Linked DNA regions of Homo sapiens. The protein of the gene in region 1 purifies or fractionates together with the protein of each later gene. This does not show direct contact. Each region holds a gene or a part of one and is shown on either strand. Other genes may lie near its edges.

Evidence for each region.
Region 2: the proteins of CYBRD1 (region 1) and CDYL purify together in Homo sapiens (affinity purification with mass spectrometry; 2 studies listed by BioGRID and IntAct, with this or other methods). This does not show direct contact.

Annotation. Positions count from the first base shown.
Region 1 is NC_000002.12:171,539,286-171,543,107, forward strand, and holds part of CYBRD1 (plasma membrane ascorbate-dependent reductase CYBRD1), read left to right. Parts: intron 1-2,299; coding exon 2,300-2,508; intron 2,509-3,822. UniProt on the Homo sapiens protein: Plasma membrane reductase that uses cytoplasmic ascorbate as an electron donor to reduce extracellular Fe(3+) into Fe(2+).
Region 2 is NC_000006.12:4,779,217-4,783,038, forward strand, and holds part of CDYL (chromodomain Y-like protein), read left to right. Parts: intron 1-3,822.

The DNA.
Region 1 (3,822 bases):
CCAGCCTGGGCAACATGATGGAATCCCATCTCTGCTAAAAATAGAAAAAATAGCAGCGTGTGGTGGTGCATGCCTGCAGCCCCAGCTACTCAGGAGACTGAGGTGGGAGGATCACCTGGTCCCAGGAGGTCAAGGCTGCAGTGAGCTGTGATCGCAACACTACATTCCAGCCTGGGTGACAGAGAAAGAAAAGAAAAGAAATATACGTGATACCCTGCTGATATAGTGGAATCCATCGTCTGAGGAAGTATTCTATAAACTTTTTCAATCTGCCACACATTTCCAGATATCTAAATTTTCCCTGACACAGACTGGAGGGATGGATAGGGGCAGGATTTTATCTTCAGAACAAAAATTAACTGAATGTTGGTTAAGGTGGCCATATAATTTATTGCTTAAACCAGGACACTTAAGACAACCCTTTGTAAAAAAACTTTTGTTTTCTTTTTTTTTTTTTCCCCGAGACGGAGTCTTGCTCTGTCACCCAGGCTGGAGTGCAGTGGCATGATCTCAGCTCACTGCAACCTCTGCCTCCCAGGTTCAAGCGATTCTCCTGCCTCAGCCTCCCAAATAGCTGAGATTACAGGTATGCACCACAATGCCTGGCTAATTTTTTTGTATTTTTAGTAGAGACAGGGTTTCACCATGTTGGTCAGGCTGGTCTTGAACTCCTGACCTCAAGTGATCTGCCCACCTCGGCCTCCCAAAGTGTTGGGATTACAGGCGTGAGCCACCGCGCCAGGCCATAAAAAACTTAATTGGAGTTTGTTCTACATGCAGAATGATGAATCTTCTGTCTATGACACCTGTGAAACCAGCACCTAGATTGAGAAACAGAATGTTAGTAGGAGTCTTCAAAATCCCTTGTGTGTTCCATTGTAATTGCTGTATCCTTCCCCACGAAGGCAACTACTATCCTGACTTTTCCAATGCAGAGATGAGTTTTGCTGGTTTCTATACTTCATATAAATTGAATTACACTATATACTTGTTAACGTCTGGCTTCTTGAGATTGACATTATAGGTTGATCCATATTACTGGGTCTAGTTCTAGTTGTAGATCGTTTCTTTCCATGGTGTAAATTTATTTATTCATTCTATTGATGATGGGCATTTGGGGGAGTTTCCAGGTTTTGGTTACTATAAATAGTACTGCTAATAATATTCTAGTATCTTTTGATGATCATATAAATATTTCTTTTTGGCATATACCCGAGAGTGAAATTGCTGGACAATAAGGTATGCATAACTTTACCTTAAGTAGATACTGCCAGTTTTCCAAAGTTTTGTTCTCATTAAAGCACTCATCAGCAGAACATTAGAGTTCTGACTGCTGTATATTCATTTTGATACTTGGTGTTTTCCAGGTTTAGCCATTCAGATATGTGGTAGAGGTATTCTCATTCGGCTTAAATTTGTATTTCTCTATTGCATGGTTTAAATTTGCATGTTTTTCTGTTCCTTTCTTTTTCTTATCAAACTAAGACTTTTTTTTTTTTTTTTGTCTTCCTCTGTTGCCCAGGCTGGAGTGCAGTGGCGCAATCTCGGCTCACTGCAACCTCTGCCTCCCGGGTTCAAGCGATTCTCGTGCCTCAGCCTCCAGAATAGCTGGGATTACATGTGCATGCCACCCCATGCCTGGCTAATTTTTGTATTTTTAGTAGAGATGGGGTTTCACCATGTTGGCCAGGCTGGTCTTGAACTGCTGACCTCAAGTGATACCCCGCCTCAGCCTCTCAAAGTGCTGGGATTACAGGCATGAGCCACTGGGCCCGGCCAAACTGAGACATTTTTAAGAAGAAAGGAGACAACAGGCATAAATCAGATTGTTAAGATTAGGAATTTGGTTTTGGATAAGTTTGAGATGTCTGGGAAGCAAACGCCGTACGGAAATACCAAGAAGACATTGGATTATGCAGATCTGAAGCTTAGAAGACAGTTCTGGGCTGGAGATATAAATTTTTTGGAGTCCCTGCCATGGAGACAGCATTTCAGTGAAAGAGTGAATGAGATCACCCACAAGAGGGAGTGCAGAGGGAGAAAAAGCCCTAGGACCGAGCCTGAGAGGCACCAAGGTTCATTCACAAGTTGGGAGTGAAGAAAATGCCAGCAAAGGAACTCCTCCACCGTCCCCTAGAGGGAGCCACTGAGAGGCAGGGGTAACATGGGGAAGAGGGGAGAAGCAAAAGCCAAGGGAAAAAGGTTTCAAAAAGGGAGTGTCCAGTGTGTCAAACTGTTCATTTTGTGTTGTTTAAAAAACAAAACAAAACACATTCTGTGTCCTTTCGTCTTTCCCTAGCCATCATCGTCTACAGACTGCCGTGGACCTGGAAATGCAGCAAGCTCCTGATGAAATCCATCCATGCAGGGTTAAATGCAGTTGCTGCCATTCTTGCAATTATCTCTGTGGTGGCCGTGTTTGAGAACCACAATGTTAACAATATAGCCAATATGTACAGTCTGCACAGCTGGGTTGGACTGATAGCTGTCATATGCTATTTGTTACAGGTCAGTATTTCAGTGTATTTACAAGCAAGTTATAAAAACAATTCAGAGACTGTAAATGTTTTCTTTTCTTTTTTTTTTTTTTTTTTTTTGAGACAGAGTCTCGCTTAGCCACCCAGGCTGGAGTGCAGTGCTGCGATCTTGGCTCACTGCAACCACTGTCTCCAGGGTTCAAGTGATTCTCCTGTTTCAGCCTCCCAAGTAGCTGGGATTACAGGTACCCACCATCGTGCCAGGCTAATTTTTGTATTTTAGTAGAGATGGGGTTTCACCATGTTGGCCAGGCTAGTCTTGAACTCCTGACCTCAGGTGATCCGCCTGCCTCAGCCTCCCAAAGTGCTAGGATTACAGGTGTGAGCCACCGCGCCCAGTGACTGTAAATGTTTTCTAAACATTCTTTACATTTGTTTCTATTATAACTATTTTCCCCTCAGAGAGCACCAGAATTGCAGAATTCACAGAACAAAATAATAAGAAATAAAGATTTCTTATACTGGATATGACTTTTAATCTGGATTCTCTAAAAACCAACTTATACTCTGCTCTATATCTTAATATGTAAAATTAAGAAATATCAGGCTGGGCATGCTGGCTCATGCCTATAATTCCAGCATTTTCGAAGGCCGAGGTGGGAGGATCATTTGAGCTCCGAAGTTCAAGACCAGACTGGGCAACATAGGGAGACTGTCTCTACAAATAAAGGAAAGACAGAGAGAGAGATCGAGAGAGAGAGAAATCAAGAGAGAGACTGATCTAACAATTAGCAATAAAGAGAATACCTATTTAAAAATCTGTGGGTCCTGGCTGGGCATAGTGCACTGCTCACTCCTGTGATCCCAGCACTTTGAAAAGCTGAGACCAGTGGATCGCTTAAGCCCAGACGTTTGAGATCAGCTTGGGCAACATGGCGGAACCTCATCTCTAAAACAAAAACACAAAAATTAGCTGGGCAGGGTGGTGCACACCTGTTGTCCTGGCTACTTGGGATGATGAGGTGCACAGCTCCCTTGAGACCAGGAGGCAGAGGTTACAGTAAGCTGAGATTATACCATTGCACTCCAGCCTGGGCAACAGAGCCAGACCCTGATCTCAAAAAAATAAATAAATAAAAATCTTTGGGGTTTAATTAAAATGGTTCCCAGAGGAATATAGGCTTAAATGCTTTTATTATATTTTTTGGAAAGAAAACTTAAAATACATAAGCTATTTACTTAGGTAACTATAAGGGAACAGCAAAATATACCAGGAAAAGTAAATCAATAAAGGTAAAAAAAAATCCATAAATAATTCATTTTCTATTGTGGTAACCAATTACCA
Region 2 (3,822 bases), on another chromosome or scaffold:
TGTTTTGTGGCCAAGTCAAGGGTTGTTAGTTGCCTTGTTTTGTCCAGTTCTGCCTAAACTGAAATAGAAGTTTTCTGTTTGGCCTCAGGCTCCACAAATCTAGAGGGATATATTGACAGGAGGAAATGTGAAGTCTTGCTTCTTTGAACTCACATGGTCTGGTAGGAGGACAGGTCTGCAGTAACTGGGAACTTGGGTGAGTTACCCAACTGCTGAGCCTTGGTTTTCTCGCCTAAAAGAAATGTCTCCAATACTTAGCATGGAACCTGGTATGTAGTAATAGGTCTTTAGTAAATGTTTAAATGGCTATTGAAACTAGGCTTTGTGAACAAAAAATAAAGGAACAGATCCTGGAAAAGATGGGTAGAGCATGAACCTTGCAAAATTTGAAGAGTTACTATTAGTTGAAGGATGGAATAGATTTACTCCCTACTTTTCCAGCTGCTAGGATTGAGGAAAAACGGATTTTTGATGCGGCGTAGGTTAGAACTTCATAGTTTTCACAAAAAGACAAGCGTCCTTTACATCACGCTTCTAATGTAAAGGGCCAGATAATACATATTTTAGACTTGTGGGTTATATTATGGTCTTTGTTGCAACCACTCAGCTCACCTCATGTAGTGCAAAAGCAGTCGTAGACTCCTATATGAATGTGCGCTGTGTCTCAAACTGCTTATGGATAGTAAAATTCACTTAGTATATTTCATATCATTTTATGTGTCATGAAATACACATTTGTGTTTTTTTTCCAATCACTTACAAATGTAAAAATGATTCCTAACTTGTAGGTTCCACAAAAATAGGCAGTGGGCTGGCTTTGCCCTGTAGGTTGTTGTTTGTTAAGCCCTGCTGTAGGTGATCAACTGTCATAGTCTGTTTAGGAATCTGGGTTTACTCAAGGGTTGGGGATGTATGGAAGTTAGACGGTATTTCTAACTTTCATCCCAGCTCTAGACTTAGAGCTGGAAGATCTGGGTGGTAATCCTCCCTCCTTTCCTCCTTCCTTTCCTTTCTTTCTTTCTCTTTTTTTTTTTCAAGAGTCTTGCTCTATCTCCCAGGCTGATGTGCAGTGGCTTCATGTTGTCAGCTCACTACAACCTCTGCCTCCCGGGTTCAAAGCTATTCTCATGCCTCAGCCTCCTGAGTGGCTGGGATTACAGACGTGCACCACCCCCGCCTACGCCCCCCCCCCCCCGCCCCCGCCCCCGCCCCGGCTAATGTTTTGTATTTTTAGTAGAGACAGGGTTTCACCTTGTGGGCCAGGCTGGTCTCAAACTCCTGGTCTCAAGTGATCCGCCCACCTTGGCCTCCCAAAGTGCTGGGATTACAGGCATGAGTCACTGCACCCGGCCTTCCCTTGTTCTTAGAAGCTTGTTAAGTAACTCATCTTGTACTTGTCTTAACTATCCTAAACTTTCTCATCAGTAAAATAGGAGGATGATAACCAAATAATTGAGGCTTAAATGGCATTAGCGTGTAAAAGCAATTCTACAAAACGTTTTCCATTTTTAAAGAGGAAAAAAAACCCATCCAACTCTCAAACCATGAAACCAAACCTGTTTTCCCTTCCTCAAGATTTAGGATTTGAAAGTATTCTATAAACTGATTATATCACCAGAGAAAGCTGTGAGGTCAAGAGGACCTTAATTTATTTAGCAGTCAAGTAACCACCATGAGACTTTGTTCACGTGGGACTGAATAAGGAACGTATGCTGTAGTAAAATGGAATAAGTATTCTCTTTATTTGTATGTCTTAATAATTCCTTTTTTCCTCAGTAGATGTGGAGTTATTCCCTTGAGAACTCCTGTAATAGTTAATTCAAATTTCAGTAAGCTCTCAATGATTAGTCTTGACCTTCTGAGAGAATATTTATGTTTTCATTTTCAAAAATGGAAGTAAGCTTTTAAGAATGAAATCGTATCTGGTGTGTAAAAAATTGTTTTAAAGTTGATTAGTTTGACAGGATGATCAGGATTTGCAGGGGAAGGTAGGTCTTTTGAATCTTTCTTCCTACTTTGCGATAAGATTCCTGCTCTCTCCTGTGCACCACAAGGCTTTTACTTACATTGACCAAAAGCAGTTGTGAATAAAGTCTCAATCTGTAGTTCAAATGGAAGTCACAGAGACCAGGACACCTTTCATGGATGTTGGCCAAGCTAGGTCAGCGTATGTTGTATATGGTGTAGCTGTCTGAAAAGATTGGAATCACCAAAATTAGTAAAGAAAAAGAGTTCATTTGACTTCAGGAGTTGATAGTGAGGCAGTGAGGTCAAACATGCATGTGTGTTTTGACAATAATAGCCTATCTTAAATGCTCTTTTTCCTGTGAGTTGCTGAGAATATTATTTATTCATTTGCCCCAGCAGCAGTGTGGAGACCTCTCATGTGCTCTTCCTTTGAACTACTTTCAATTCCTGTGTACCAGAATAGCGTTTTTTTCATTCTTGCTGTGATATCTAAGAATCATAGACTGTTCCCTCGTGCTCTATAATGATTTTAACCACGGAGAATATTTTCATGGTATGTAGGCAACACTTTCTTCGCATTGTTCTGGTTCACAGTTTTGGATAACTGTGATTCACAAAGCCAGGCCTCAAATGAATTCTTTTGTAAATAAGGAGTGATAGTTTTTATATTGTGAGCACTCCTAGGTGGAACAGGACCAGCCTGGGGTCTTTTTTCAATTCAGATTCTTGAACCCAAACCACGAGATTATAATTTTCAATGTTTGGATGGAGACAGGAATCTTATGTTCCGAGAAGCTTCTTTTTGGAATGCAGGTGGATTTAGGAGCCTCTGGATACGCCCTTCTGTGTTTCAGACCCTTAGGCTCTGCGTGGAGGTGGGTGGGGGTGGGTTGGGGATCTGCCTGGCGGAAGAGGAGCTCTCGGTGGACCAGACTGGTTCTTTCTGCAGGCTCCTTGACCACTGCTGGTTGTTAACTGAGTAATTCCAGGAAGGGAATATTAAAAACATCAGGTAGTTAGCTAAGGGCGTTGTAATTTCTGTTTTCTGTCTTTATTGCCTGGCATGTTTGTCCACCAGAATGTAAGTGCTTTAAAGCTCAGATTCATTTTCTGGTCATTATTTTCCACAGCTCAAAATACTGCAATCGTTGCATAATTGTTGAGTTACTTTAATGGAAGAGTGAATTACAGGAATGAATCTCCATTCCTGACTCCTTACTTACCTCGAGGTTCCTCCTCCCCTAAGCATTATGCCTCTTGCTGTTCTTTTTACTCTTAGTTCCTCATCTGCTTACATGGTTTCAACTCTAGAATGGAGAATTTCACTGTTTCCCACACAAACTTAATTCTCTTCAGCCTTTTAAGCTGGGCAAGGTTTTGGGGTTCACGTTCTCTAGGAAGTCTGGGGAGGGCCTATTATGAGTCTAGATATGACTTTAAATCCAATTATAACCTCAAATAGAATTTTATGAAAATTTAAACAAGTACATATGAGCATATTTCAGAGGGAGAGAATCAAGAGCTTTCATCTGATTCTCAGAGGGATATAGGACCCAAAGCAAGTATTAAAAACTGCATCGAGACCTTTGAACTAAGACTTATCTGTGGCTGCCCTCCACGGACCACTTTGACATTATTTTTGTTGAACTGTCCTCTGCCACAAATTACAGTAAAACCATATTAAAACCTCACTGATTGGGTTTAGAAGTTGTATGCTATTTCTAGTCTTTAAGTGGCTAATTTTGCAGCTATGCATACATGATGTCTAAAGATAGTCAGTATTTAATGGCACTTCTGACAATGTAAAGATTTTACATTCCTTGAACCCTGGTGCATTCCTGAACTCACATGCTA